3 separate regions of the Homo sapiens genome follow, and all the other regions are linked to region 3. Evidence: fine-mapped expression QTL. A gene starts in region 3. Each other region holds a variant in brackets. All regions are shown on one strand. Distances are between the middles of the regions. Region 1 holds the start of LOC124904971 (a long non-coding RNA gene). Region 2 overlaps ZBP1 (Z-DNA binding protein 1). Region 3 holds the start of BMP7 (bone morphogenetic protein 7).

Evidence for each region.
Region 1: its variant is fine-mapped to the expression of BMP7 in sigmoid colon (GTEx, PIP 0.94).
Region 2: its variant is fine-mapped to the expression of BMP7 in spinal cord (GTEx, PIP above 0.99).

What each region holds. Positions count from the first base shown.
Region 1 is chr20:56,552,215-56,562,611 of GRCh38, forward strand. It overlaps LOC124904971 (a long non-coding RNA gene), which reads left to right and starts at 1,704. Exons shown (of 2, transcript XR_007067758.1): 1 at 1,704-1,744; 2 at 2,474-3,397. RefSeq lists an enhancer at 2,622-2,671. The variant C/T (reference allele first, on the strand shown) is at 5,231.
Region 2 is chr20:57,597,700-57,608,096 of GRCh38, forward strand. It overlaps ZBP1 (Z-DNA binding protein 1), which reads right to left. Exons shown (of 8, transcript NM_030776.3): 8 at 6,153-7,070. The coding sequence ends at 6,874. Among named protein-coding and RNA genes, the nearest start is that of ZBP1, 18 kb to the right of the region's middle. The variant A/T (reference allele first, on the strand shown) is at 5,857.
Region 3 is chr20:57,261,757-57,272,153 of GRCh38, forward strand. It overlaps BMP7 (bone morphogenetic protein 7), which reads right to left and starts at 4,885. Exons shown (of 7, transcript NM_001719.3): 1 at 3,949-4,885. The coding sequence starts at 4,366. It overlaps LOC112268270 (translation initiation factor IF-2-like), which reads left to right and starts at 4,684. Exons shown (of 2, transcript NR_171651.1): 1 at 4,684-4,886; 2 at 5,027-5,531. RefSeq lists enhancers at 1,114-1,830, 2,549-3,264, a promoter at 4,373-7,734 and a cis regulatory region at 4,992-5,084.

The sequences.
Region 1 (10,397 bases), 710 kb before region 3:
AACCCACCAAAACCAAAATAGCAAAAAGAGTGACCTCTGGTCATCCTCACTGCTACACTCCCACCAGCACCATGACAGTTTACAAATGCCATGGCAACGTCAGGAAGTTACCCTATAGGGTCTAAAAGGGGGAGGCATGAATAATCCACCCCTTGTTTAGCATATCATCAAGAAATAACCATGAAAATGCACAACCAGCAGCCCTCGGGCCTGCTCTGTCTATGGAGTAGCCATTCTTTATTCCTTTACTTTCCTAATAAATTTGCTTTCACTTTACTCTATGGACTCACCCTGAATTCTTTCTTGCACGAGATCCAAGAACCCTCTCTGGGGGTCTGGATCAGGACCCCTTTCCTGTAACACTTGGACTCTGGACCCAGCGGGCTCTGACAATCTGGGAGTGGCGGGCAACAAGCCTTCCTTCCCAGAAAGGGCACACGTGCAGTCAGGTAGGGCTGTGTACCACTCTGAAATGGACCAGAAGGTCTGTGGAGGCCATTGGCAGAAAACTAGCCTGTGCAGGGTGCCCTTCAGGGGGTCCTCAGGCTCTGATCATGTTTGAGCTACTTAACAGTTCTGTAGGCTGGGCGCAGTGGCTCATGTCTGTAATCCCAGCACTTTGGGAGGCGGAGGTGGGCAGATAACCTGAGGTCAGAAGTTTAAGACCAGCCTGGCCAACATGGTGAAACCCCATCTCTACTAAAAATACAAAAACTAGCCAGGTGTGGTGGCAGGCACCTGCAATCCTAACCACTCAGGAGGCTGAGGCAGGAGAATCACTTGAATCAGGGAGGTGGAGGTTGCAGTGAACTTAGATCACGCCACTGCCCTCTGGCCTGGGTGACAGAGTGAGACTTTATCTCAAAAATAAAAAAGAAAAGAAAAAAAGGGAACAGAAACTGTGTGACTTGGACAGTGGGCACAACTTTGGGTTCCCCACCCTGCCCATTCAGCCTGGTCTCAGCCCACCTACCTTGCCAGACATCCATTTGTTCTCTAAATATTAACTGACTCCCATGAGCCAAGCAGGCTCTCAGCACTGAGCATGCAGAGGTAATAGAATCCTATGAGTTGTCAGCCTCTTAGAGGCTGTTAGACAACGGGGAGCAGACAACAGCAATGACACGGGAATATACAATAGCATGTCAGGAGAAGATCAGCCTAGAAAGAAGGATGCACCAGGAGGAGGGGCTCCTGGGCTTCATGGTCAGGGAAGACCTTTAAGAGGACACTTTGGAACAGAGCATGCACAGAAAGTACAAAGGTCCTGAGCCCCGCTCCTGCCTACCAAGGGTACACGCTGCCCTTAATTACACATTCATTACCATTGCGACTGGGTTTCTGACTCACAGCATTAAAGGAGAAGCTTCGGGAGGGCACAACCCACCACCATCGGGTCTCCACTGCCAAGCCTAGGCAATGCCTGGCTCACAGTAAATGCTTAACAAATGAGTTATTATAATAATACAAAAATATAAACATGAGTTATTATCATAACTCATTTATTATATAATATTATATATTAGTTTTATATATTACATAACTAATACAACAAATATAACTAATAATTTCACAATGTGACCTTGAAACATTAACCAAATTTTTTTGTTTTTGTTTTTGAGACAGGGTCTCGATCTCTCACCCAGGCTGGGGTACAATGATGTGGTCTTGGCTCACTGCAGCCTTGATCTCCTGGGCTCAAGCGATCCTCCAACTTCAGCCCCCTGAGTAGCTGGGACTACAGGTGCATACCACCACGCTGGGCTAATTTTTAAATTTTTTGTAGAGACGGGTCTCACTTTGTTGCATAGGCTGGTCTCAAACTCCTGAACTCAAGCAATCCTCCTGCCTTGGCCTCCCAAACTGCTAGGATTACAGGCATAAGCCACTGCACCTGGCCACTCAATACATAAACTAAGATATTAATTTGCATAAGCCAACCTTACTATATTAGCCCTTATCTTCCATTAGTTCTCCCATTTCCTGGTCACTTTCCTACAGTTTATCATTGCTTGAAACCCAAACCTTATTTCCTTTGTTAAAATGCTATATAAGGTCAGGCACAGTGGTTCACGCCTGTAATCCCAGCACTTTGGGAGCCCAAGGGGGATCATCTGAGGTCAGGAGTTTGAGACCAGCCTGGCCAACATGGTGAAACCCTATCTCTACTAAAAATACAAAAATTAGCCGGGCGTGTTGGCGGTGCCTGTAGTCCCAGCTACTCCGGAGGCTGAGGCAGGAGAATGGCTTGAGCATGGGAGGCAGAGGTTGCAGTGAGCTGAGATCACACCACTGCACTGTAGCCTGGGCAACAGAGCAAGACTCTGTGTCAAAAATAAAAGTTATATAAGCCTGAATCTAACCATTTCTTTGAGTTTTACTTCTTTTCTATAAATTCTCATGCATGTAAATATTAACAAAAATTATATGCTTTTTCTCCTGTTAATCTGTCTTTTGTTACTTTAATTTGCAGATCCCAGGTACCGAACTGAAGATGGTAGAGGAAAAGTTTTTCCTGCTTAACATATTCAACTCTCTACCCTCAATATATTTGGCTGTTATTATTCTGGTTTACATGTATCATAATTTAACCAGTTCCCTACTGGTGGATGTCTAGGTTTCCCCGATGTTTTGCTATTAAAAACACACATGGTACACGTTTTTCTAGATCGGGCAGGGTTTGCCCATCTCCACTTCAAGCAGCACAACCACCATCTGCCAGTGTTGGGGTTTACTCTACAGTCAGCAAACACTGTTGGCACATCCAGTCAGAGAAACTGAAAACAGAAAGCAGAAATGGCTTACACTGGACTAATTTTAGAATTTCTAAGTACATTTAAGTGATGACTCATCCCACTTAAATTCAAAGCTGTTTGTTGTGCCATCTGGCTCATCAGAACATGAAAGACTTCTCCTGCAACCTGGAAAAAGGCCAGAGAGGAAGACGAATGGAGGAGTCAACCCCATGGGAATGCTGACTGAGTGTTAGCTCCCCGTGGACAGGAATGTCACTGCATGAATAGGCTGCAGTATGTCTGGGCCTGTTTTTTTTTCATAAAATGTTCCCCCCCTGTTTTTTTCTTATTCCAAAGCAATGCAACAAAAAGCACAAGAAATCAAAAAGGAAAAAATAGATATTGGACTTCATCAAAATGAAAAACTTTTGTGCTTCAAAGGAAATGGAAAGAAAGTGAAAAAACAACTGAGGGAATGGAAGAAAATATTCTCAAATCATCATCTAACAAAGGTTGTGTTAGTCTGTTCAGGTTGCTGTAACAAAATATCATTTCAGGTCACCAGGTGGCTTAAACAACAGATTCAGTTGGCCCTCCGTATCCATGGGTTTCAGGCCTTCGACTTCAACCAACCTCAAATAAAAAATATTTTTAAAACCCAATACGGCCGAGTGCGGTGCCTCATGCCTGTAATCATAGCACTTTGGGAGGCCGAGGCGGGGGGATCACTTGAGGTCAGGAGTTCAAGACCATCCTGGCCAATACATAGTGAAACCCTGTCTCTCCTAAAAATACAAAAATTAGCTGGGCATGGTGGCGGGTGCCTGTAATCCCAGCTACTTGGGAGGCTGAGGCAGGAGAATCGCTGGAACCCCGGAGGCAGAGGTTGCAGTGAGCCGAGATCGCACCATTGCACTCCAGCCTAGGAGACAGAGCCTTCTGTCTCTAAAAAAAAAAAAAGAAAGAAAAAGCCAGTACAGCAATAAAAAATAATAAAAATCTTAAAACAATGTAGCATATTGTTTTAAACTATTTAAACTACAATTACTTACATAGCATTTACATTTATAAGTAATCTAGAGATCATTTAAAGTACACAGGAGGATATGTGTAAGTTATGCGCAAATACTACACAATTTTATATCAGGGACCTGATCATCTTTGTTTTTTTTGTTTTGTTTTTTGTTTTTTGAGACTGAGTCTTGCTCTGTCACCCAGGCTGGAGTGCAGTGGCATGATCTCAGTTTACTGCAACCTCCACCTCCTGGGCTCAAGCAATCCTCCTGCCTCAGCCTCCCGAGTAGCTGGAACTACAGGCATGCGCCACCATGCCTGGCTAATTTTTGTAGTTTTAGTAGAGAAGCGGTTTCACCATGTTGGCCAAGCTGGTCTTGAACTCCTGGCCTAACGTGATTCGCCTGTCTTGGCCTCCCAAAGTGCTGGGATTACAGGCGTGAACCACTGTGTCAGACAGAGTAGACTCCGTCTTAAAGAAAAAAAAGTTTTGGTGCCATTCCATGCAACGTGGAGAGAAATGTCGCATTCAGGAGGGAAGGCTCCCAGACACTTAACTCTCCACTCCAGGCCAGCTTTCTGGAGGCACCAGGGCTTTGTCAACGCATAGATGAGGAGTCAGCCATTGAGTGTGACAGTGTGAGGCAGTGGAGAAGGCATAGAAGCTGGAAGCTGGAAGTCCTGCCTTCCTAAACCACAGCTGCTTCTTACCAGCTGTGTTACCTTAAGTAGGTCCCTTAACCTCTCTGAATCTCATCGCAAAGTGCTTTTCGAATAGAGCAGGATCATTGAGAGGATTCAGTGAAGTATTTACTCTTGAAACCCTTAGCATGGAGCCTGGCAAGTACCAGGTGCTTAGGAACAATCCTTCATTATCACACCAAAAAAGGTGCTGTGGACACCCAAGGAAACAAAATCCCTTCGATAAAGAATTTTAAAATTTTAGTCTTATGAACCGTGCTATGTATTCTCCTGCCTTTTTGACAGAATAGACTGAACATCCTTTAACCTTTTTTGATGGTGCAAGATCATCTCTTATAAGACAAAAATTCAGGCCAGGCATGGTGGCTCATGCCTGTAATCCCAGCACTTTGGGAGGCTGAGGTGGGTGGATGGCTTCAGTCCAGGAGTTCGAGACTAGCCTGGGCAACATAAGTGAGACCCTGTCTCTACAAAAAATACAAAACTTAGCCAGATGTTTTGGTGTGCACCTGTGGTCCCAGCTACTCAAGAGGCTGATGTGGAAAGATGGTTTGAGCTCGGGAGGCAGAGGTTGCAGTGAGCCAAGATTTTGCCACTGCACTCCAGCCTGGTGACAGAGCAAGACTCCATCTCAAAAAAAGAAAGGCAAAAATTCCCTCAGAGTGCAAAGCTTGCCAGTATTTAGAAATCCAACATTAGTCTTCATTCAGCAACCAGTCATTCATTTGCCAAACATGAACTTTCCCTAGAACTCCATACTTCTTTGGACGTGTGAGACA[C/T]TGCCAGAATAATTATTCAAGCACTGTGTGGGCCAGGTGCGGTGGCTTACGCCTGTAATCCCAGCACTTTGAGAAGCCGAGGCAAGACGATTGCTTGAGCTCAGGAGCTCGAGACCAGCCTGGCAACATGGTGAAAGCCTGTCTCTATTTAAAAAAAAAATTAGCCGAGTGTGATGGTGCCCTCTTGGAGTCCCAGCTACTCAGGAGGCTAAGGCGGGAAGATCATTTAAGCCCAGGAGATGGAGGCTGCAGTGAGCTGTGATCTACCACTGCATTCCAGCCTGGGTGACAGAGCAAGACCCTGTCTAAAAAAAAAAAAAAGAAAAAAAAGAAAAGAAAAGAATGAGTGGGAGGGCGAGGCGCGGTGGCTCACGCCTGTAATCCCAGCACTTTGGGAGTGGGAGGTGGGTGGATTACCTGAGGTCGGGAGTTCGAGCTCAGCCTGGCTAACATGGTGAAACCCCGTCTCTACTAAATACACAAAATTAGCTGGGCGTGGTGGCACACGCCTGTAATCCCAGCTACTCCGGAGGCTGAGGCAGGAGAATCGCTTGAACCCAGGAGGCGGAGGTTGCAGTGAGCCGGGATTGTGCCACTGCACTCCAACCTGGGCGACAGTGAGACTCCGTCTCAAAAAAAAAATGAAGTACTGGTACCTGCAACAGACACAAAAGCCACATATTATATGATTCCCTGTGTGTGAAATGTCCAGAAGAGGCAAATCCATAGAGCTGACAAGTAGAATGGTGATTACCAAGAGCTTAGGAGAGGAAGGGCTAATGGCCTTGAGGTTCTTTTTAAGGTGATGAGCATGTTTATTTGGAGACAGAGTCTCGTTGTGTTGCCCAGGCTGGAGTGCAGTGGTGTGTTCACAGCTCACTGCAGCCTCAACCTCCTAGGCTCAAGTGCTCCTGCCATCTCAGCCTCCCGAGCAGCTTGGACCACAGGGCTGAACCATCACCCCCAGCTAATTTTTTCTGTTTTTTGTAAAGGCAAGGTCTCACAAAATCCCAACATGCTGGGATTACAGGCGTGAGCCACCATGCCTGGCCCCTACTCATTCTTTTTTTTTTTTAAGATGGAGTCTTGCTGTGTCACCCAGGCTGGAGTGCAGTGGCACAATCTTGGCTCACTGCAACCTCCACCTCCTGAGTTCAAGCAATTCTCCCTGCCTCAGCCTCCCGAGTACCTGGGATTACAGGCGCCTGCCACCACGCCCAGCTAATTTTTGTATTTTTAGTAGAGATGGCGTTTCACCATGTTGGCCAGGTTGGTCTCGAAATCCTGACCTCAGGTGATCCACCCACCTTGGCCTCCCAAAGTGCTGGGATTACAGGCATGAGCCACCGCGCCCAGCCGCCCCTACTCATTCTTAATCACACCACCTGACTTTCTCCACATTGATCACATTAGGATATTATCTTGTTTATTTACAGAAAATCTGTGTCCCTCTTCAGTGCACTGGACTCTTCGGTGCACTGGATGCTCAATGCAGGCACTAAGTTTTGTCTGACTTACCACTGGTTGTATGCCCTGCTCACAGCTGGTGAATGAGTGATTGGAAACACACCTGCTCCCTTGATTTAGGCCTCTGGGAAACAAGGGCAAGGTAAGTTCAGGAAGAAGAAAGACCTCGTAATTTCCAGGTAGGAAAAATCCTTTGGTGTGGCCGTGAGACACTGCATTCTTCTTGGCCACAGCTCCCTCTGCTTTGAGAATCACATAATCAACTTTATCTTTCTCTGAATCGTTCACATAAAAGGGAGGTGTTGGAACACAAGGTGGAAATGGGTGTGTTGGCGGTGGCTGAGGAAGTCGGGGCAGGAGGAGCCACTGTTTCTGGGAATGAATTCCTGAAACTTGCTGGTCCCACCAAGATGCAAATCTTGCGGCAGTTTTTACAGTTATCCTGTGGAAGAAGTGAGGATCCCACTCCAAGCCCAGGTCAGAATGCTGATAATCCCCTCTGATCAGGTTTTTTTAATTTTATTTTTATTTTTTGTGGTTTGGGGAAGATTTGCCAACTGTATCCTCTTTTCTGGCAAGGAAAATTTATATCTGCCCAATGAAATCAGGAATTTAACTTCATTCATTCAACAGTTATTTAATTCTATCCTCTACTAGATTCCTACAGCTGCTGTAACCCTAAAGTACCACAAACTGGGTGGCTTGAAACAACAGACACGTAGCCAGGCGCAGTGGCTCACGCCTGTAATCCCAGCACTTTGGGAGGCTGAGGTGGGCAGATCATCTGAGGTCAGGAGTTCAAGACCAGCCTGGCCAAAACGGTGAAACCCTGTCTCTGCTAAAAATACAAAAAAAATTAGCCGGGCATGGTGGTGGCGCACGGCTGCCATTCCAGCTACTCGGAATGCTGAGGCAGGAGAACCGCTTGAACCTGTGAGGCGGAGGTTGCAGTGAGAGCGAGACTCTATCTCAAAAAAACAAAACAAAAAACCCCAACAACAACAGACATGTATCCTCTCACGGTTCTGGAGGCCAGAAGTCTCAAATCAAACGATTAGCAGGGCCATGTTCTCCCTCCACAGGCTCTTGGGGAGAATGTTTCTCTGCCTTTCTCTTCGCTGCTGGTGTTGCTGGCAGCTCTTGGCACTTTTTGGGTGTAGGCTCATCACTCCAGCACCTGCCCTGGGGTCACATGGCTCTCTCCTCACTGTGCCTCTTCTTTTTTTATTTTTGAGACAGGGTCTCATTCTGTGGCCCAGGCTGGAGTGCAGTGGCACAGTCTCAGCTCACTGCAACCTCCTCCTCCCCAGGCTCAAGTGATCCTCCTACGTCAGCCTCCCAAGAAGCTGGGACTTCAGGCTCATGCCACCAAGCCCGGCTAATGTTTTGTATTTTTAGTAGAGAGAGCAGTTTACCATGTTGCCTAGGCTAGTCTCGAATACCTGAGTTCAAGTGATCTACTTGTCTCAGCCTCCCACAGTGCTGAGATTACAGGTGTGAGCCACTGGGCCGGGCCCTCCTCTTTTTTTAAAAAAACAAAACAAAACAAAAACATTTATTTTAAGTTCAGGGGTACATGTGCAGCTTTGTTATACAGGTAAACTTGTGTCACGGGGGTTTGTTTTACAGATTATTAATTTCATCACCCAGGTATTAAGCTAGTATCCATTAGTTATTTTTTCTTTTTTGTTTTTTTTTTTTTTTTGAGACAGAGTTTCACTCTTGTTGCCCAGGCTGGAGTGCAATGGTGCCATCTCGGATCACTGCAACCTCCGCCTCCCGGGTTCAAGTGATTCTCCTGTCTCAGCCTCCCGAGTAGCTGGGATTACAGGCATGAGCCACCGTGGCCAGCCTAGTTATTTTTTCTGATCGTCTCCTTCCTCCCACCCTCCACCCTTGGCCAGACCCCAATGTGTGTTGTTCCCCTCTATGTGTCCATGTGTTCTCATCATTTAGCTCCCATTTGTGAGAATATGCAGTATTTGGTTTTCTGTTCCTGCATTAGTTTGCTAAGGATAATGACTTCTAGCTCCATCCATGTCCCTGCAAAGGACATGATATCATTCCTTTTTATGGCTGCATGGTATTCCATGGTCTATATGTAGCACATTTTCTTTATCCAGTCTATCACTGATGGGCATTGAGGTTGATTCCATGTCTTTGCTATTGCGAATAGTGCTGCAGTCCTTTTCTTCTAAGGATACCGGTCATATTAGATTATGGGTCCACTCTCATCCAGTATAACCTCATCTTAAATGATATCTTAATTATATCTTCAAAGAAGTAAGGTCACACTCACAGGTACTGGGGTTAGGACTTCAACATAGGTTTTTTGGGGGAAACTATTCAATGCCTAACACAACCTCTCCAAGAAAAAAATCTTACTGAAATTTTAATTGGAATTGTATTCAATTTATATCATAATTGGGGGATTTTGACTTTTGTGTTTTTTTTTTTTTTTTTTTTTTGAGACAGAGTCTCGCTCTGTCGCCCAGGCTGGAGTGCAGTGGCACGATCTCAGCTCACTACAACCTCTGCCTCCTGGGTTCATGCCATTCTCCTGCCTCAGCCTCCCATGTAGCTGGGATTACAGGTGCCCGCCACCATGCCTGGCTAATTTTTGTATTTTTAGCAGAGACGGGGTTTCACCATGTTGGTCAGGCTGGTCTCAAACTCCTGACCTCAGGTGAACTGCACGCCTCAGCCTTCCAAAGTGCTGGGATTACATGCGTGAGCCACCATGCCCGGCAACTTTTTCTTTTTCTTTTTCTTTTTCTTTTTTTTTCTTTTTTTTTTTTTGAGATGGCGTCTTGCTCTGTCACCCAGACTGGAGGGTAGTGGCGCCATCTCAGCTCACTGCAACATCTGCCCCCCCGGGTTCAAGCGATTCTCCTGCCTCAGCCTCCAAGTAGCTGGGATTATAGGCACCCGCCACCATGCCTGGCTAATTTTTGTATTTTTAGTAGAGATGGGGTTTTGCCATGTTGGCCAGGCTGATCTCGAACTCCTGACCTCAGGTGATTCACCCACTCCGCCTCCCAAAGTGCTAGGATTACAGGCATGAGCCATTGCGCCCAGCCAAATTTATTTCTAAGTGTTTCATAGTTTTTGTCTGCATGCTGAATGAAAATGTTTCTTATTTAAATTTCTAGGTGTTTATTGCTACAGTGTGAGAAAACTATTGTGTGGTTTTTTTTGTTTGTTTTTTGTTTTTTTTTAAGATGGAGTCTTGCTCTATCGCCCAGGCTGGAGGGCAGTGGCTTGTTCTGGGCTCACTGCAACCTCCGCCTCCTGGGTTCAAGTGATTCTCCTGCTTCAGCCTCACTAGTAGCTGGGATTACAGGTACCCACCACCAGGCCTGTCTAATTTTTGTATTTTTCGTAGAGATGGGGTTTTGCTATGTTGGCCAGGCTGGTCTGGAATTCCTGACCTCAGGCGATCCACCCACCTCCGCCTCCCAAAGTGCTGGCATTACAGAAGTGAGCCACCACGCCCAGCCTTGTTTGATGTATATTTATCCTGAGACTAGCCATCTAACCAAACTTTCTTATTTATTCCAGTGTTTTGAAAAAATAACTAGTATGTTTTGAGTTTTCTAAGCACACAGTCCTATAAATAGAGAAATGATTGAATGTTGCATCTTAGAATATTTTGCAGGATAGGAAAAATAACCTAGGGCTATCTATCAGCTGGCCATGA
Region 2 (10,397 bases), 340 kb after region 3:
CACTCTGGGCTAGATGTCTGTGTTAGGGGCATGGGGTGCGCTGAGCGTTGAAGGGCATGGGGTAGCCTGCACATTGAAGCATGCTCAGCAGTGCGGGCTGTGTGAGGCTCCCCAGGACGATGCCCGTGTTCTAATCCCAGAACCTGGAACATGTTACCTTACATGGAGAAACAGACTTTGCAGAGGTGATTAAGTTAAAGATAGTGAGGTGGGGGGTCATCCTGCATTATCAGGGTGGCCTCGATGTCATCACAGGGGTCCATCTAAGAGGAAGGAGGAGGTGAGAGGGAAAGACAGAGGTTCAGAGCCGGTAAGCCAGATGCTGGGGGCAGAGAGGAGTCACACAAATGGGGGGATCAAAGATTCACCTCCAGGATCTCCCAGCCACGCAGTTCACCCCCCACACCCCTGACCTGCAGGTGGAGCTGGGAGGGCCAGGCCTGTCTCGAGCTCTGTAGCCAGGGGCGCCAGACCCCCTCCCCCCTTTCCCCACCCCCGGCCCCCCAGCTGACACTCCCGCCTTCAGGGCTTTGCCGGCACTGGCCCTGCTGGATTGCTTCTCCAGCAGCTGGGGGCATTCAGCTGATTGTGGCAAAGGCCACTGTGCCCCGGGGTGGGCGTGGGGGGCAGGTCAATGAGACACAGTGGGGGAGCTGACCAGCCAGGGGCTGGGAGGTGACAGCCAGGCCGCGGTGATATGTCCCAGGCAGCTTTTTCAGTAACATGTTTAAGAGCACTGGCTTGCAAGCCTGCCTGATGGCTGGGTTTGAATCCTATCTCTGTCCTTGGGCAGTAGTTTCACCTCCCTGAGTGGGTTTGAATCCTATCTCTGTCCTTGAGCAGTAGTTTCACCTCCCTGAATGGGCTGCCTTGGAATCATGCAGCGGGGGCTGCATCATGCTGCGTATCCACAACTGTCCAAGGAACCCTTGTTTCACAGGAGCTCTTGCAGAAGAGGGTTTTCATGGAATGCAAAATCCTGGTCCTGCTGGCCCCTCCCCATCTGAGGTGATGTGGCTGCCCGTGGGTGGGTGCCAGTCTGCTGTCATCCGTGGGAGCTAGCAGCCTGGCAGATGGGAGTGTTAAATCCTCCGTGATGGGTTGACCACCAGGACTGGAAAAATCTGGTTTTCAATCTGGAATTTTGAACATGGGTCTCACTTGTCAGCCATGTGGCTTTGGGCAAGCCACTTACCCTCCCTTGGCCCCAGTCTCCTCATGTACTTAAGGGGAGGATTAAAGAATGCTTAGAAAATGCCCTTGTCACAGAAGGTCCACACCATTCTAAGCACCCCCAAATTCAGGGGTGAGCCTGGATTGGCTACAGCTAATGACTCTCATCCCCATGCCCAATTGGAGGTGGCAAATACTGGGGTGGTTTAGAAATTGCTTTTGTCCCCTGTGGGAATGTGAGGTCTGGAACCACTGCAGCCATTTTGTCCCCAGCAGGGCAGAACTCTTAGTGGCTGGAAAGTCTCCGTGTGGAGCCTGAAAAAGCTGAGTCTGTGGGAAGCCATGAAGAGAGATGGAGGGACAGTGGGTCCTGAACCACATTGTTTGAGCTGCTGGATGAGGCCTTACCTGAACACTGCTAGTTTGTGAGTCAATAAGCACGCTAAAAAAAAAACAACAAAAAAACCTGCTTTTTGTTTTGATTCAAAAGTACAAATAGATCTGCAACATCCCACCTACAATATTGAACAGATGCCTAAACATACAGTCGTCCCCCAGTATCCCCAGGGGATTGGCTCCAGGACTCCCTGTGGGTACAAAATCCATGGATACTCAAGTCCCTGATATGAGATGATATAGTATTTGCATATAACCTATGCACATCCTCCTGTATACTTTAAATCATCTCTAGATTACTTATAATACCTAAAACAATGTGAATGCTATGTAAATAGTTGTTATACTGTATCATTTAGGGAATAATGACAAAAAAGTCCACACGTGTTTAGTACAGATGCAGTCATCTTGTTTTTCAGATATTTTCGATCCTCAGAACCCACACATACATAACCGACTGTATTTTTAAAAATCTTATTGGTTTCATTTTTCCCACTTGAAAATTTTTTCCCACATTCACTCAGCCTTCCATTCCAGGCCAGACCCAGTGGCTTCATAGGTTTTCTGTGCAGTATCAGGCTTCAGATTCTCACAACTCCCCATGCAGGGTTTTGTTTTGTTTTTTTTTTTTTTTTTGAGCCTTCGGTGGCTGGGGCCCTGTGGAGAGAGACTCATCAGAGAGCAGAGAGCTGGAGAGAAAGAAGCCTGAAAGGAAGGCTTGAGCCTCTGGATCCAACCATTCCTGAACATGAGTGTCCCTTGATTCCCCAGTTGCATGAGCAAATACATTCACCATTGTGCCTGAGCCTGGGGAGCTAGGCTTCGGCCATTCAAAGCCAAAATGCCCGTGAGTCCCTCTGTAGACTCTTCTTCCTGCTCTAAGCATCCAATTTTGGTTGCCTGGTAAAATCTCACAAGTGAGGAGTCCTGTCTGGGGTCACCCAGAGAGGAGGAGAGCAGCTGGAATGAGAACATAAAATTGCATCTGTGAGCAGGTTGGTGGTTTCAGAAAATCATTTCCAACTCCTGGAGCAAATTCCTCCTCCCTGCATCGAGTTCTGGGGGCTACAAGCTCCGTTTGCACACACCATGGCAGAAGGGAGGGGTGGGTGGGCGGGCTAGACACAGCGCGGGCTGAGGGGTGGATGGACTTAATCATTCTCTGCTTTTAATGGTATCTAGTTAATTTCCTTCCCAAGGAGACTAACATTGACCTTCACCTCTGGCCCCCATTAACTGCTAGCAATGCTTTGTCAGCGTATTTATGACAAATTAATTACACAGGGAAAATCTTGCTGGGAAAATGAGTATTCTGATTCAGCCTGGGGGTGGAAGCTGCATTTTGATTCCTCATTGACAGGGGGCCTGGTTATCCACAAAGTTTGGCCAAACTTGGAGGCAAGCAACTGATTTGCAGCTCCATGCAGCAGGAAGACACGCCCAGAAAGATAGACAAACCCCATTCTCATCCCCTCCTGCCTAGTGACTCATGTTTGCAAACTGGGTACTCTATGAGAAAATACTCTGGGGATCCCAGATCAGCATGGTGGTTGAGATAACTTTGCCTACAGTATGGCTGAGCAGCTCCAGTCCATGGGACAAGACACCCTATCCCCCAGAGTCAATCCAATGGCTGTACCGACCTTGTTGCCTAGGTCTGCCCAGTCCTCCCTGTGGGCTGGCTTGTACAGCAGTGTCTGGTCCAAACTCCCAAGCGGCCATGGTCTGGTCCCCACCTGCCTCCGCAGCCAGCCTCCCTCCACTCTTCTTTGTGCTGGGCTCTCCGGCAATACCCAAACCACGGTGGTTCTCTGAATAACTCAGCTGGTTCTGATCTTCATGGCTTTACTCCAGCTGTGGCCTGCCTAGAGCACCATTTCCACCCTACGCAGCCTCCTCCCTCTGCCTGGTCTTGAAAAATGTGCTCTTGAGAGTTCCCTCCTCCTCCAGGAAGCCTTCTGGACCCCTCTAGGCTGTGTCTGGGCCCCTGTCCCACACTCCCATGATTCCCTGTGATGGTTCCTGCTCTGAACTCCCTGCCTGTGTACGTTCCCCTCCTGACTCACTGTGAGCCACTATCAATGACAGGGCTTTGTCTCCCACTCTCAGTAGCCCAAGGGCCCAGCACAGGAGTTAGCCTGCAGGATGTGGTCAGTGAAGGGCCTTGTCCAGCATACATTGGACCCTGGAGGTATAAGAGTTGAAAGCCAGGGCCCCTGAGTCCAGTAAATTCCTCATTCAAAGCTGGGGAGTGTAGCGGACTTCTGAGGTTCTAGCCTGTCCAGCATCCCTTTCCTGGTAAATTTAGAAAACAGCTGATCCATCACCCTTAGGCCATGTGACTGGGGGTGGCTGCTCCCCATCCTGGTTCCAGAGATAAGCTATGTGATACCAGTTGGCCAATCACCGCATTCTATTGCTCTGGCCAATGACTGGTGGGGAATGGGCATACAAATAAAGCCATCTGTTGTGGCTTTTGCTGTCGGGAAAGTCATCCCTCTCCACTGGGTAGCTAAGCTAGTGGTGTGGGGGCCTGGAGCTGCTGGGGGCTATCATTGAAAACAGAGGAAAGCAGTAGGGGGGTGGAGCGAGGCTGAGTTCTAAGAGATCACCTGAGCTCCTGGATCTAGACATTCCTGAAGCAGGCTCTATGCCTGGGCTTGTCTATTAGAAGATCCAGTGCATCCCCTTTTGTGCTGAAGCAGGTCTCAGCTTTCTATCATCTACGACCAAATGAGTCTCGATGGACGAGAGCTAGACTAATGACAAGGCAATGTTGGGGCAATGAAGTGTGGGTTTGATATGGGGAGCAGAGGAGGCTTCAGAAGCAGACAGGAGGCATCCAGCTAGCCTGGGAGCTCTGAAATCTCTCGGTAAGGTCATGCCTCAGGTTGAGTAGCAGTGAGCTAAGGGGAGTGGGTAGGGGAGGTGAGGGGGCAGCTGCCCTTCAGAAATGGAAATCCCAGTGGAGCTGGCTTCAGCACTAAGGGGACATCTCAGTTCTTCTAATGGGTAAGTGCTAGGATAGGTTCTGCTTCAGGAATGACTGGATCAAGGAGCTCAAACAATGTCTTACGAATCCCCTTTAAGGGATGAACTGTAAGTTCTATATATCAGTCTAGGTTCTGACCAATATGTCAAAGCATCCACCCTAAAGATCCTCCCAGTCGAGTTGGGCAAGGAGATATGAATTTGTTCAATAACTGTTTTTACTGAGGCCCTGTGATGAGCCAGCCCCTCCCCGCCAAGGTAGACATTAGCCCCAGGGGCATCAGCTTTTGGGTGTCAGATGCCAAGGCCAGTGAAGGAGACAGAGTGGAGTGTGACAAACGCCCACCTGAGGACTGGGTGTGGCATTGGAGTTGGGGGCAGCAGAGTGCCTGTGTGTGTGCATGTGTGTGTGTACACCTGTGTGTGCATGTGTGTGTGCCTATGTGCACACTGAAGGACGGACACAGTCCTTGTTCCACAATCACCCTGCCCAGCTGATCACCACCTCCCTCTATCCCTCTCCATCTTCCTCCCACCATGCCCCACCAAATCCCTCCACTACCCACCCCACCCCATGGTTCAAGAAATGTTGCAGAGCCCATAGCCCTTCTACGGGAACTTAGCCCCTAGCGGGGTGGTGGGGTCTGGTAAATAACAAGCTGACATGGTTTTGCTGTGTCCCCACCCAAATCTCATCTTGAATTGTAGCTCCCATAATTCCCATGTGTTGTGGGAGAGACTCAGCAGGAGATAATTGAATCATGGGGATGGTTCCCCCATACTGTTCTCCTGGTAGTGAAGTAAGTCTTATGAGATCTGATGGCTCCATAAGGGAAGCCACTTTCCCTTGGCTCTCATTCTCTCTCTTGCCTGCTGCCATGTAAGACGTGCCTTTCGCCTTCCACCGTGATTGTGAGGCCTCCCCAGCCACGTGGAAGTGTGAGTCCGTTAAACTTCTTTTTGCCTATAAATTACCCCGTCTTGGGTATATCTTTATCGGCAGCGTGAAAATGGGCTAATCCACAAGCACTCCCTGCTGATTGGCCAGAAGAGGTCACCTGACCCATGGGTCAGCCAATGACTTCCACCAGGGCCTGGGGACCCAGGGTCGGGGTGGGAAAGAATTTTCTCTTTGGGAGTCCAGCTAAAAGATCCTGAGAGATCAAGGCTGAGGAGAGAAGATTCTAGAAAGGTCGGGTGATAAGGAGGTCAGGTGGCCACAATGGGCCTTGAGGAAGTGAGACCTCAGGTGAGGAGAGAGTGGGGCAGTGTTTCAGTTGGCTCAGGCTGCTATAA[A/T]AAAATGCCTCACCCTGGGTAATTTATAAGCAACAGGAATTTATTGCTTACAGTTTCGGGGTCTGGGAAGGCCAAGATCAAGGTGCCAGCAGAGTCAGTGTCTGATGAGGGGTTGGTCTCGGCTTTAAGGATGGCACTTTGTTACTGCATCCTCACATGGCGGACAGGCAAGCGGGACTAACAGGCTCCCTCAAGCCCTTTCATGGCAGCGCTAATCCCACAATCCCACTCGCCCTCCTGACTCCATCCCCTCCAAAAGGCCCCATCTCTTCATACCACTGCACTGGGGATTATGGTTGGTTTATTTTTTATTTATGTATTTATTTTTTTGAGACGGAGTCTCGCTCTGTCGCCCAGCCTGGAGTGCAGTGGCGCGATCTCGGCTCACTGGAAGCTCCACCTCCCGGGTTCACACCATTCTCCTCCCTCAGCCTCCGGAGTAGCTGGGACTCCAGGTGCCCGCCACAACGCCCGGCTAATTTTTTGTATTTTTTTTTTTAGTAGAGACGGGGTTTCACCATGTTAGCCAGGACGGTCTGGATTTCCTGACCTATTGATCCGCCCGCCTCGGCCTCCCAAAGTGCTGGGATTACAGGCGTGAGCCACTGCACCCAGTTGGGATTATGTTTTGATATGAATTTTGTTGGGACTCAAACATTCAAACCACAGCAGGTAGCCATGATGGAAGGTAACTCCAGGCAGATGCCCCGAGCCCAGGAAAGAGTGGAGAGAGTCCCCTGGGCCTGGGGGACCGAGCCCCACTCCCATCTACCCACCTCCTCTTGGCACACCAAAGGTTCCCCAAGGCAACTCCCTGTCATCTACTCCTGGCCATCAAAAGACCTGGCCTGAACCCATCCCCATGCCAGGTCCATTCCCCCAAAACTGATTCATGCAGGTTATGTCTGGAAGCAAGCAGGTCAAACAAGACGCTAAGGAATGCAGAGAGCAGCAGGCTAGTCTCCCTAGCATGCGCCCACCCCCAGCCTGTGTCCAAGCCCCACGTGAGGCTGTGCACTAAATCCCACCTCCCCACCAGCTCCCCTCGTGTGAGGCTTCATCCACATAGTGGCTGCCTTCTGCAGCTTTGTGACTCCTGTTTCCAAGAGTCATAGTTTCCAGCTTGGGGGTGAGCTTCGAGTGGCTGGGAGTGATGGGCTGACCAATGTCTCGAGGAAAGTGACTTCTGGATTGTGTGTCTGCGGGACGACGACCTAGGGAAGAGAAGATGGGGGATCAGCTTCATGGGCACGTGGCCTGGGCATTTCCACAGGGACCCGCTCTTGGAAGGATTTCGAGCTCAGCTTGAGCCTTTGTTGTTACTGTCTTTAGATTTGTACAAAGTCTTGAACAGGGAGCCCCACCTTTTCACTTTGCACTGGGCCCCCAGATCATGTAGCCAGTCCTGTCCTAGTTTCACAGCAGTGAGATGGAGGAGCAGAAATAACACCAGAAAGCCCCCATCCCAGGGCTCTCCCAGTCCTCCCAGGGACCCCAAAAGACGGCTCTACATGCTCTGGCACTGACAGTCTCTGATTAGCAATTTCCTCAAACAAAACAAAACAAAACAAAACAAAACAAAACAAAAACCATTCCAGGCCTTACACATCTCAGGATAAGGTCCCGCCCGCCACTCAAGGAGGAAGTGACAGGCAGACCTCATTTTATCTCACTTTACCTTATTGTACTTTGGTTTATTACACTTCATAGATATTGCACTCATTTTTCACAAGTTGAAGGTTTGTGGCACCCTGTGTGAAGCGAGTCTATCAGTGCCAATTTTTCCAGCAGCATATGCTCACTTCCTGTCTCTGCGTCACATTTTGGTAATCCTCACAATATTTCACACTTTTTCATTTTGATTATATGTGTTATGGTGATCTGTGACCAGTGATCTTTGATGTTGCTATTATAATTGCTTTGCTTTGGGGTGCCACAAATATCACCTGTAGAAGATGACGAAGTTAATTAATAAATCTGTGTGCTCTAACCTGTCACTGATCAGCCATCTCCTCCTCTCTCTCCCTCTCCTCAGGCCTCCCTATTCCTTGAAGACACAACAATATTGAAATTAGGAAAATTCATAACCCTACAATGGGCCGGGCGCCGTGGGTCACACCTAGAATCCCAACACTTTGGGAGGCTGAGGTGGGCAGATCACCTGAGGTTGGGAGTTCAAGACCAGCCTGACCTACATGGAGAAACCCCATCTCTACTAAAAATACAAAGTTAGCCAGGCGTGGTGGTGCAGGTCTGTAATCACAGCGACCCAGGAGGCTGAAGCAAAAGAATCCCTTGAACCTGGGAGGTGGAGGTTGCAGTGAGCCAAGATTGTGCCATTGCACTCCAGCCTAGACAACGAGAGCAAAACTCCATCTCAAAAATAAATAAATAAATAAATAAATAACCCCAAACGGCCTCTATGTGCTAAAGTGAAAGGAAGAGTTGCACGTCTCTCACTTTAAATCAAAAGTGAGAAATGATTAAGCTTGGTGAGGGAGGCATGTCCAAAGCTAAGACAAGTTGAAAGCTAGGTCAAAAGTTAGCCAAATTGTGAAGGCAAAGGAAAGGGTCTTGAAGGATATTAAAAGTCTTACTTCAGCAAACACATGAGTGATGAGAAAGTGAACCAGCCTTGTGGCTAGTGTGGAGAAAGTTTTAGTGGTCTGGATAGAGGATCGAGCCAGCTACAACAATCTCTTAAACCTAAGCCTCGTCTAGGGCAAGGCCCTTGCTCTATTCAATTCTAAAGGCTGAGAGAGGTGAGGAAGCTGCAGAAGAATAGTTGGAAGTGAGCAGAGGTTGGTTCATGAGGTTTAAGGAAAGAAACCGTCCCCATAACATGCAAGTGTGAGGTGAAGCAGCAAGTGCTGATGGAGAAGCTGCAGCAGGTTACCCGGAAGCTCTAGCTAAGATCATTGATGAGCGTGACTACACAACAGAGCAGGTTCTTAATGTAGATGAAACAGCCTTCTATTGAAAAAAGATGTCATCTAGAACTTTCATAACTCGAAAGGAGATGTCAATGCCTGGCTTCAAAGCTTCAAAGGGGACAGGCTCTCTTGTTGGAGATTAATGTAGCTGGTGACTTTCAGCTGAAGCCTCTCCTCAATTACCATTTTGGAAATTCTAGGGCCCTTAAGAATGATGCTAAATCGACTCTGCCTATGTTCTATGAATGAAGCAACAAAGCTAGATGAGAGCACCTGTATATAGCTTGGTTTACTGAATATTTTAAGCCTAGCATTGAGACTTACTGCTTAGAAAACAAAATATTCCTTTGAACATTTCACTGCTCATCGTCCATACCACAGGATCTGAGTGTTCCGCATCCTGGATTGAGGGCCAAAAAAAAATTTTTTTTTTACTACTCGTTGACAATGCACCTGTTCATCCACGGGCTCTGATGGAGATGTAAAAAAGAATTAACATTGTTTTCATGCCTGCTAGCACAGCATCCATTCTGCAGCCCATGGATTAAGGAGTAACTTCAACATTCACTTCTTATTCTTCAATAAATATATTTTATGAGGGCATAAGTGCAACACAGAGTGATTCCTCAGATGGATCTGGGCAAAGTAAGTTGAAAATCTTCTGGAAAAGATCACCAATCTACATGCCGTTAAGAACATTTGTGATTCATGGGAGGAGGTCAAACTATCAACATTCACAGGAGTCTGGAAGAAGTTGATTCCAAATTTCATGAATGACTTTGAGGGGTTCAAGACTTCAGTGAAGGCAGCAACTGCAAATGTGGTGGAAATAGCAGGAAAACACAAATTAGAAGTGGAATATGAAGATGGGACTGAATTGCTGCAATCTCATGAGAAAGCTTGAACAGATGAGTTGCTTCTTATGGATGAGCAAAGAAAGTGGTTTCTTGAGATGGCATCTATTCCTGGTGAAGATACTGCGAACATTCTTGAAATGACAACAAAGGATTTAGACTGCTATATAAACCTAGTTGGTAAAGCAGCAGCAGGGTTGGGGAGTCTTGGTTCCAATTTTGAAAGAAGTTCTAGTATGAGTAAAATGCCATCAAACAGCATTGCATGCTACAGAGAAAGCTTTCATGAAAGGAAGAGTTCATTGCTGCAGCGAACTTCATTGTTGCCTTATTTTAAGAAATTGCCACAGCTGCCTCCACCTTCAGCAACCACCACCCTGATCAGTCAGCAGCCATCAACATCAAGGCAAGACCTCCACCAGCATAGAGATGATGACTGGCAGAAGACAGGTGATGGTTAGCATTTTTAGCAATAAAGTATTTTAAAATTAAGGTATGTACATTGTTTTTTAGATATAACGTGATTCAGTGCACACCTAATAGACTAGAGCATCGTGTGAATATAACTTGTATATGCACTGGGAAATCAAAAATTTGCATGACTTGCTTTATTGGGGTGTTCTGGAACTCACCCATAATATCTCTGAGCTATGCCTATTGATGTCTCTTGGGGACAAAGAGAGGTGGGTGGGTCAGGGCAAGGGGCAAAGATGTCATCAGCTCTTCTGCTAGAACCTTAGGGAAGAATGTCAGG
Region 3 (10,397 bases):
CTGCAAATGCCTGCAGTCCACGCTCCCCTTTGCGAAGCACTCCCTGAAGGAAATTTTTAAACTGTAACAGAATCTTTTTCTAATACTCTACAGTGGTAGGGCCTGCTCTTGACGGGCAGTGGGAGAGGTCTTAATGCCAAACACTTGTCAACAAAAAGGACAGCCAGATGGCATAAAGCAAAAATCAAACTGCACGGCCTTCTCCCTACTCTTCAGCTACATTAACAAAAGCCACTTTTATAGGCTGACTCCAATAATGATAGGTTTCCAACTTTCTCTTCTTTTCCTTCAAAGATTACACAAATTTCATGCCTTCATTACCTGGACCAGAGATAAACATGATGACTTCCACTCCCCTAGTGCCAGCCGGCTACTTTACAAGATTCCTAACAGAGCTGCTGGATCTTCCCAGAGAAAGAATGGTAACGGGCTATGGCTAGATGCAGTGTGCGGAGTCGCCATTGCCTGGGGATTATTTAAGAGAGGGTAGCTGTTTTGAATTCCAAAATTAAGTCTACAAAGAGGAGTCGGGGTTGTTAATCCAAACCAGTTTACAAATCTTGCCATTGAACTTAAGGGGCCCAGGCTGGGAAGATGGGAGTCTCACTCAGGCAGCTCAGTTCACATTGCCTGGGGCTTTATGGTACAGGCTGGGCTTTGTCATAAGGTGCGGCCTTTAGTCCTCATTCCCACCACCTGGTTTTGTCGTAAATTCCCCTCTAGTTTCCCCTCTAGTTTAGATCCCGCTCAGCCTGGCAAAAAACTTGAATTCCAAGAACGACTTATAGGAACAAAAACCAGTTTGGCGGCAGACAGAAGGAAGAATAAATGCACCAGGTCTGCAAAAGCCTTCAGAATTCAGGCAAGGGTCCCCCCTCCCGCGCACGCAGGCCGCCTGCCTGCAAGACAGCAGAGCTCTGCAGTGCAGGGCGAAGGGGCAGCAGAGGCTGCCAAGATCCTCACCCATGCCCCCCCCGCCAAACTCCCACCATAATAAGAAGTAATAGTTTGATATGTGCAAGTGATATTTTCTCACTCTTATGTAAATTGTGAGAATAAACTTGCCTTTAGAAAACTTCGAATACTACAGATCAACATGATTTGCAATCCAAGGAAAAACACTATAGCAGTACTTTCTCAGCAAACTCAGTGGCCAGACAAGTCTCCTACACCTCCCCCCAACCCTCTCCAACCCTACTGCCACCCCCAAGTCCCTCCTATGGAGAAATTCCAAGCTACAACAGGATAGAAGGGACAGGCCATTTATTTGTGTGCTGCTGCTTAGCAGAAATTAAAGGCCAACATTAGAAGCATCTACAGGAAGTGTCTCGCCAAACTGCAGCCCAGGTCTTCACCTAACTAATGACCTCGAGTTTAGGGACAGAGAGAGAAAGAAAACAAGGTCAGTGCGCTCTGTTAAAAGCCACTCTGCCATCTAATTTGGAGTGATGTCCCAGAAAGCTAGACCTGAGAAAGTCAGGGTCCCACAAAGCCCAAAGCCAGCCTGACTGATTAAGAGGCTCAGACAAGCCGGTCTTTGTCCTTTCAAGATGAAAGAAATGGATTGAAAGGTGTATGTACAGCCAGAGGAGGAAAACCACCCAGCTGTGGCCTTCCCAAACAAGTCCCAGCTTGCTCCTGCCGCCATGGGGGGAGCAAATAGCCCGCACCAAAGTTCCCAGAGGCACCCTCCGAGCAACCTGGTCTTTCTCTTGGGGACAGGGAGCCCCGGGGCCTAGCCCACACTGCCGGCCCATAAGCACTGGGGGCTTTTTTGCTCTTGGTTTGCAGGGCCTTCTGCAGAAGCCAGAGATTACAAATACCTTTTTAATGATTCCAGCCAGGCTCTGAAGGCAGCCACTGGGACCTGCACATTCAGTGGGAGTCCGGGGTACCCAACAGAAGGGAAGATGCTATAAATCCCCCACCAGAGAAAGGGCCCTGGCTAACCCCAGGCTTCAGGAGGGCGACAGAGCTCTGCGTTCATTATTTATATGTATGTATTTGGAATTTTCCTTTAGTTTTTGGTATAGTTAATAAATACACATTGTTTTAAAAAAATCACAAATACAGAAGTGCAGACGACGAAAAATCAGACCCCACCTCCCACTCCGTAAGCCCCAGCTATGCCCCCGCCTCTCTACCCCTCCAGTAAAATCTCTCTCCAGTTCCTGGTGTCTTCCTCCAGGAGGACACGATGATATACAAGCACACATGCAGCCCACTCATCTGCACCTTGCTTCTTTCCACCTCATACATCTTGGAGATGGTTCTAAATCAGGTCATATGTTGCTGCTTCCTTCTTAACTGGCTGCTTAGTATAATTTAAACTTTTTTGAAGGTATTTTGGCATCTAAACCTCCCACCCCTTGCTCGCTGAAGCTTGGTTCACTAGTTGGATTTAGTTATTATTAAGTACAGACAATGGCCTCCCGGGAACTCCAGGGACCTTATCAGGAGGGGGAAGCATGAAGGCGGATCTGCGCTTCCCCCGCGCCCCCAGTCCACGCCCCAGGTGCCCAGCGTGGGGCTTCAGTATCATTATTTCCATGTTGACACAGCGCCCGTGGGCGTGAGTTTGCTGTCTTGACTTGGTTCGGGTTTTCGCAGCAAGTTACACAAGTAGAATGAAAGCGGCTCAGGAAACAGCGCTATCGGGGTGTGTTATCTCGGAAACCAAATATTTGATCATCAGTCCCGCAGCGCGCTGGCGCTGCCGGGGGGTTAGTTTGAGCAAGTCTGGAGAATGTGCGCGCACATATGGAGGGGGAGCTCCCCGGCCCTCGCTGCAGCCCCAGGCTCGCGTCGCCGGGGTCGTCGCGGCTCCAGTCGGAAACCGGGACCCCCAGCCGCCCCCGCGGCGTCAGCTCTGAGATCCCGCGCAACCCAATCGCCAAAACCTGTGGTTTGCGCGCCACACGTGGTAAATGCTGAAAATAGATTCTGCCGGCCCGGGACCTACCACTAAATACTTAAAATAGAAGACTAGCGGCAGGGCACAGTGGCTCACGCCTGTAATCCCAGCACCACTTTGGGAGGCTGAGGCGGGAGGATCACCTGAGATCGGGAGTTCGAGACCAGCCTGCCTAACATGGAGAAACCCTGTCTCTACTAAAAATACAAAATTAGCCAGGCATGGTGGCGCATGCCTGTAATCCCAGCTACTCGGGAGGCTGAGGCACGAGAATCGCTTGAACCCGGGAGGCAGAGGTTGCGGTGAGCAGAGATCGCGCCATTGCACTCCAGACTGGGCGACAAGAGTGAAACTCCGTCTCAAAAAAAAAAAAAAAGAAAAGAAAAGAAAAAAAAAGAAAAAAGAAAAAAATAAACAAAGAAAGAAAACAAAGAAAATTAGCAATGGCACCGTTTCTTCCCCAGCTCCAGCCAAGAGAGAATGGGGCATCCGGCGGCCCGGAGAGGGGCCCCAAGGCGCTCGGAGCGCGCGGTACGCTAAGGCGGGCGCACCACGAGGGGACAGGTAGGGCTTGACAGGGAGGGTAAGGGGGTGCGACGGCCGCGATGCCAGAGCCAGGCAGGGCTGAGAGGGGCCCAGGAAGGGCGGCAAGGCAGCCTCGCCGGGAAGGGCCCTTTACATCCAGGTAGCGCGAGCCGCGCCGGCCCGGGACAGCTCACATGACCGAGCCCCGCGCTTTGAACGGCCCTTGCCTCCAGCCCCAGAGATGCGGCCGGCGGCGTAACATGGAGGGGACTTCGGAGGATCCCTCCTTCCCAGTAACCCCTACAGGCTCACCGAACCCAGCGCGCCCGACCTGGGGGCGCACACAGCTTGGGAGTCATAGGGCTGTGGGTGGGAGACCCTCGGGCAGGCACTGCGATTTCAGCCAGGAGCGGAAAGCTGGGCGGGCTGCATAGAAGAAGCGGCTCCCTCCCTCCCAGTCTCAAAGTGCCCCCGAAAGGAGACGCGTACCCTCGCCTGCCCTTACTCACCGAGGTTGACGAAGCTCATGACCATGTCGGCGTCGGTGAGGAAATGGCTATCTTGCAGGCTGGCCAGAGGGGGGCCCTGGGTACTGAAGACGGCCTTGTAGGGGTAGGAGAAGCCCTGGCCGCCGGGCCCGCCGCCCTCCTCCACCGCCATGGCGTTGTACAGGTCCAGCATGAACATGGGTGCCGAGTTGTGCTTGCCCTGGAGGTGCGGGCGCGGGCGGTGGGGCAAGCCCAAAATGGAGAGGATCTCGCGCTGCATCTCCCGCCGCTCCTGGCTGCGGAGGCGCCGGTGGATGAAGCTCGAGTGCACCTCGTTGTCCAGGCTGAAGTCGGCCAGGGCGGAGCGCAGCAGGAACAGGGGTGCCCAGAGCGCCACGAAGCTGTGCGGCGCCGCAGCTCGCAGTGAGCGCACGTGCATCGCGCCGGCTCTACGCGCTACCCGGGCTCCGGGCTCCGGGCCCGCACCGCCCCAGGTGGCAGAGGGGGCAGGCGGCCGTCCGCGCCGCTCGGTCACTTGCTGCAGACGGGCCCCGCTGCGCCCGCGCCAGACATGGCCCCTCCCCGGCCGGCCGCGCTCTGCCCGGACCCCCGCCCCCTGCTCGGTGCTGGCCCCGGGCCCCTCGCCCCGCACTCGCCCGGGCGCACCGCAGGGCTTGGAAAGCAGCCCCGGCGAACGAAAAGGCGAGTGAGGAGGCGGGCGCGGGTGGGAGGAGCAGCCAGCAAGCCTAGGAGTCCAGAGAGCCAACGCCGGGGAGGCAGCGAGGAGGCAGGCGGGCGGGCGAGCGCTCCTTCTTCCCGCTCCTCTGGCGCTCTCGCCCTCGGGCGGCGGCAACCCACCCTCTTCCAACCTCCGGCGCGGATAGCAGGGGCCCCGGGGCGCTCTCCCAGCCTTGTGCGCCCTGGATCGCACAAGAGGCCGCCTCGGGAGCGCCAGAGTGGTACGCGCTGGGGCCTGGGCGGAGGAGGAGGAGGAGGAGGACGGGCTTCGAGGGGCCCCTCCCGCGCCGGCGGCCTCCCACCTGCCCTCGGCCCCGCCCTCCCCCCAGCTGTGCCCAGTGGGTTCATTCATTCCCTCTAGAGCGCTCGACAAATGTTTACTGAGTGCCCACGGGGTGCCTAGAGCCTGGCGGGACGTCGCGGGGATGCGGCTGGAGGAATCGGAGCCGGCCCTGCCCTCTCGGCACTCGCGGTCCGGACCAGGAAGGCGGCCCGAGCAGGACGGGTGGGCTGCGGACCGCGGTGGGAAAAGTTGGGGGAGCGCGGAGGTGGCGCGGAAATAGAAGGCTTCCTGGAAGCGGTGACCCTTGAGCCGGTCTTGCCCCTCAGTCCCTGTATCCTTTTAAGCCAGCCACGCTGACCCCTCCGCGCCTCCCTGAAGCCGTTGCCAGCCTGTCTCTGCGCTCGCCATTCCCTCCGCCTGGACCTCTCCCCACTCACCACCTCCCGCCCCCATCAGACGCTGCTTTCTCCTCCCAGAGACCTCCAAGACCTGCCAAGCTGAGGTTGTTTCCTCGCCTCGCCCCTCGCACGTTTGTTTTCTTTCCTGTAGTTTCTCTTGCTGTCTGGAATTGCTGTTTGAGTTACTCCGTGCCTTCTTTATTGCCTTCTTACCCCCGCTAGACACCCAGAGCACTGGGGCCCGGATCAGCGATCTTCTCCGCACCTCTGGTACCCGCAGTGCCTTGAACCCAGCGCCTGGTAGCCACTGTAGCTGCGCAGTCACGATTTGTTGAGTGAATAAGTGAACTGCGTGTGAGCTGGGGGGGTTCTTCCCACCTCCTCCTCTTCGGGGCCCTGTATCTTTCCAGCCACCCCTCAGCCTGAGACCAGACACCCCAGCCCCACCACTAGGGCTTCCCATCAGCCCTCCTCGTGGCAGTGCCTGGGGAGCCAGCCGCTGGTCTTCACATCCTCTTCCCCTCCAAGGGTCTGTGCCTGAGACCTCCCCATCGGCCTCCTCTCCTGTCTCTCCTCATCCATTCATCCCTCAATCAATACCGAGCCATGCACGCTGTCACAGGGAGTCCCCAGACCACTCAGAACCCACCGGTCCCTCTGCCGGTGTGGGATCTCAAGGGAATTACTGCACCCAGAGTGGCAGTGAGGGCAGCGGGGTAAAAGTTCATCCTGTCTCCTTCCCCTCCTGGGGCTGGGTGAGAGAGTGGGTCCCCAGAGGGCCTTTGGGATGAACTGGGAAGGGCTGAGGTTGGGGAAGCGGGGGCGCTTGTCTGGGAGGGGCTCTGGCTAAGCCTCACTTTGGGGCTGTCCTTCCTGGAGCAGGAGAGCTGGGGAAGAGAATTATGGTCTTCTACAGTTTTCTGGAGCAGAAGTAGTTTGGCCAAGTGGCCCTCTGGGTCTCCCTTGGGGACTTTTGGACTAGATGGCAGCCTGAGGGGCCACATGGGTGGAGAAAGGGGAGGCCAGAGGCCAGGCAAGGAGCAGAAAAATGCCAGCCTGCAGGTCCTGGCCATTTACACACAGGCCCCAGGCTGTGGGATGGAACAGGTCTTGAGCCCCATGCCAGGGAGGGGCCTCTACCCACCCACCAGGCAAGGCCCTCAAACCACCCCCACCACCTGCTCTTCATCCATTCACTCCTTCCTTCAACAGACAAGCATGGAGCACAGGATATCAGGAGGCGAGCTGTGGGGCCTGCAACCTGGACAGTCGTACAGGGCCCCCCAGCTCTTAAGGGCCCCACACTTGGTTTCCTACTCTGAGGTCACCATATGTGGTTCTGAATCACCTATGAACAAAGTACCCCCTGCCCCGTACTAATTTTGCACCTGGCCCAGATATTATGTGGCCAGTCCCAGGGCCAAGCACCATGCTGGGCAGGAAGACATGGCCATGAGCGAACCCACATGGCAGACTCCATCAAGGAGCCGGCCTCCAGGCCAGGGAAGCAAAGCAAGAGCCTTAAATAAGATTCAGGGACTGAAGGAGAGGCAGATCTTGTCTATCACTCTCTCTGGAAACAATTCAGAAGCCAGGCAGAGGAGGACATGCAGGAGGGAGAAGGAAAGGTGGGCATCCTGGCAAGCAGGAATCCTACCCCAGGGAGACTGGGGAAATTGCAGGAGTGCCACAGTCGTCCAGGGTCCATCTGAGAGTGTACAACTGGAGAGCCTGGGTCACTTCAGCCTGCAATAAGTGACAGGCAGTGGGGGCGGGGGCGCAGATAAACAGGGTGAGGTGATGGAGGGTGGGAAGGGGAGTTTTTGGAGGAGATGCCACTGACCTGAGTCCTGAAAGACAAGAAAGAGACAGGCTTTTCCAGGGAAAGGCATCCCAGGTGGAGGAACAGCAAGTGCTTGAGCCCTGCAGAGCAGGGAACAGAAACCAGGCTCGGTCCCCAGCCCTGCACACGCCCTCCAGCGCTGGCTTGCTAGGGACAGGCTATGCCACCTCCAGTGCCAGTAGAGAAAAAGGAGGTCATTTTCTTCCAAAGTCTGAAATAATAAGGAGCCAAAGCAGCCCTGTTCTTCAGTAGTAGTCTCTGCTTTTTATCTACTCTCAAATCTTTTGGAGGGATCTTCACAAGCAGGTGAGGCTGGGGGCAGGGGCAGCAGGTCTTGGTGCTACAATTTACATATGAAACAACTGATCCGTCAGTGTCTAAGCAAGGATTCTAGTTTACCCTTCTTTGTGCATCTCACCTGAGCCTATTCTGAGCCTGGCACACAGCAGGTGCTCAATTAGTACCTGTTGAATGAATAGTAATAAGCACAGCCAAAACCTAAAGAGACCGGTTGACTGAGGGCTGACTGTGCAGGCGCCAAGCTAAGGCATCTCCCAGATCCCTCACCCCAGCAACCCTTCCTCTGAGACGCCATCTTTTCTCATGCAAGAGGAAGAGACAACATGCTCTTCATATCCAAGACCTCAAGAGATAAGGTTTCCTCTGAAGTCCCACAAACCCCCATTTAGCCTTATCTTTTCTGTGATCCATGCTTGGTGGGGGGGTCTTTCTTTTCCCTGTTTCCTCCCCGAGAGGCATCCCCAAGACTGCACCAGGCCCTCAGTGAATGCCGAATGAATGAATGAATGAATGAATGAATGAATGAATGAAAACCGGCAAGCAAGAAATATCTGGCTGGGAGTGCATCCGATGCCAGTTTGGGAGCTGAGCCCACCACCAGAAAAGGCTTTGAGATTGCCGAGGGCAAGTCTTGTGTGGAGGAGGTAGCCTGGGCACTGGAGCCTGCCCAGCCGCATTCACACTCCAGCTCTGTCTCTTCCAGCTGTGCACCATGGGCAAGGGACTTAACCTCTCTACACCTCAGTTCCCCCATCTGTAAAATGGGGTGACTGATAGCGCCTGTCTTCTGGGATCGCTGTGAGGTTGCAGAACTTAATTCATGGAAAGGGCTTTGCACAGTGCCTGGAACACAGAGAAAACCCTTGATAAATGTTATTGTGTTACCATCTGGATGAAAAGGAAAATATGGTAACAGGAAAGCCTCCTGAGTTACAAAATAACAACAAAACTTTTCATGATGGTCTGCTTTTTGGCCAAGCAGAGAAAAGCAGATGTATCCTGACTCTGAGAGCAAGAGCAAAAGTACCAGAGCAAAAGAGAGAGTGAAGTGGAAGGGAACATGAGAGATGAAAAGGTCATCACTGCATTCCAATCCTCACATTGTGCCTAGGCCCCCTGCAGGCCAGCTGGGGCCCAGGGACTTCCCTGGGTCCTATCTCATTTCCCCAGCAGCTAGCCCCCAACCCACACACCCCCAGTTGTGGTTCCCCTGGCCAGGGCACCCAGCACTGGGCTCCAGGACCGTAATCTGATCTGCCCCAGTCTGCTCCACACCTGGGGCCGCCTTTGCCTGGATGAAAGACGGCCTGGAATTGTAAGGGGTGTTATTGTGTCGGGTGGCCCGGTCCCAGTGTCCGCGCCCCTCGCCTGCTGGCCTCCCAGTGCTGGGCCAGGAGTTTTCATTTCCTACATCATCAGTCACATCTTGCTGAAGTGATTTTGACCAAGTCAGCATGTCTCTCTAAGGCAGTAAAAAGAAGAAAAGAATTCTGCTGACACACACATTGTTCAGCGAGGTGGGGACCTCATCTTCATCCATCTGCCCTAGAGGAGGCTCAGCTGGCCTGGAAGCTCCCTGGGGAGCACAGCCAAGGAAGCCAGTGGGCTGCTCTCTCTCTGTCCACACCACCTGGCAAAGGCCAGATGACCTGGACCTCCAACCCCAACAAGGAATAGAGGGCCAAGAGCTGCCTCCTGCACAGGCTTGAAAATCGTTGTGTGCAGAGGTGGACCCTGCAGAGGAAATTATTAGAGCACACCTGTGGTGAAATTTTGTTTCCCACGCAGATCTCTCATTGCACGGGAGGCTTGGACTCCTCACGCTTGCCCACTCTGAGATTTTCTTTGCACAACTTTAAAAGCAGCAGAATAAGAGATTAAACGTCTTCCATCAGTCTTAAGTACACATGGCAGTGGCCACAGTTCCAAATGGAAAATACAGACGACACACACACTCTAGAGAAAGCTGATACCATGCAGGATTTCTAGGATCTGGAAGCCAGCTAGGGGGAAGCAGTGGTTTTGTTTATTATTATCAGGGCTGTTATTTCTTCCTTGATTGGAGGAAATCTGGTATGGTTTTGAGCACTAACTATCCTCGGTTCAGCACTAGAGGTAGCCCTTTCCTCCTTCCAAAACGTGACAGGGGAGCGGCCGACCTGTCACCTGTTGGGAGCACTTGCTTCTGCTGGGCACCTGCTAGGCCTGCACGGCCCAAGCCCACATCACCCGCAACTCCCCACTGCATGGAGAGGCTAGTTCTGCTCCTCAGATTGCAGAGGAGGACCAACATCCCGAGAGCACCTTGTCCAGAGTCAGACAGCCAATCTAATCTGTAATGGAGCCAGGATCCAAAGCCACATCTGTCTACACAGCCCAGGCCTTTAAGCATCAGTGCACGTTCAGTGACCTGGGAGCAGCCCCTTCCTTCCTTGCTTTAACCTAAAGCAACACTTCTCCAACCCAACTGTGCGTGTGAATCCCCTGGGGGTCTGTTAGAACATAGATTCCCACAGTCAGTCTGAGTGAGCTGAGATTCTGCACTTCTAACTAGCTCCTGGGGGCTCGGAGGCTGTCGTCTTCAGGCTGTATGTTGACGATCGAGGCTCTAGATTTCTGAAGTTATAGCTGACAAATTGGGGCTTCAAATTAAAACTTCAATATCTATGATTCCAGGTGTCTTTTAAAATTAACTCATTAATTCTCCCAACTACCTTGTATGATTTTTATTATTATTATCCCCATTTTACAGATGAGGAAATTGAGGCTCAAATACTTGAGGGAACCTGCCCAAAGCCACACCAATGGTGAGTGAATGGTAAAATCAGAATTCTGACGCCGGCTATCTTGTTCCAGGACTTAAGTCCTTAAACATTGAGGTACACCAAAACACAGGGTTTGTCTTAGT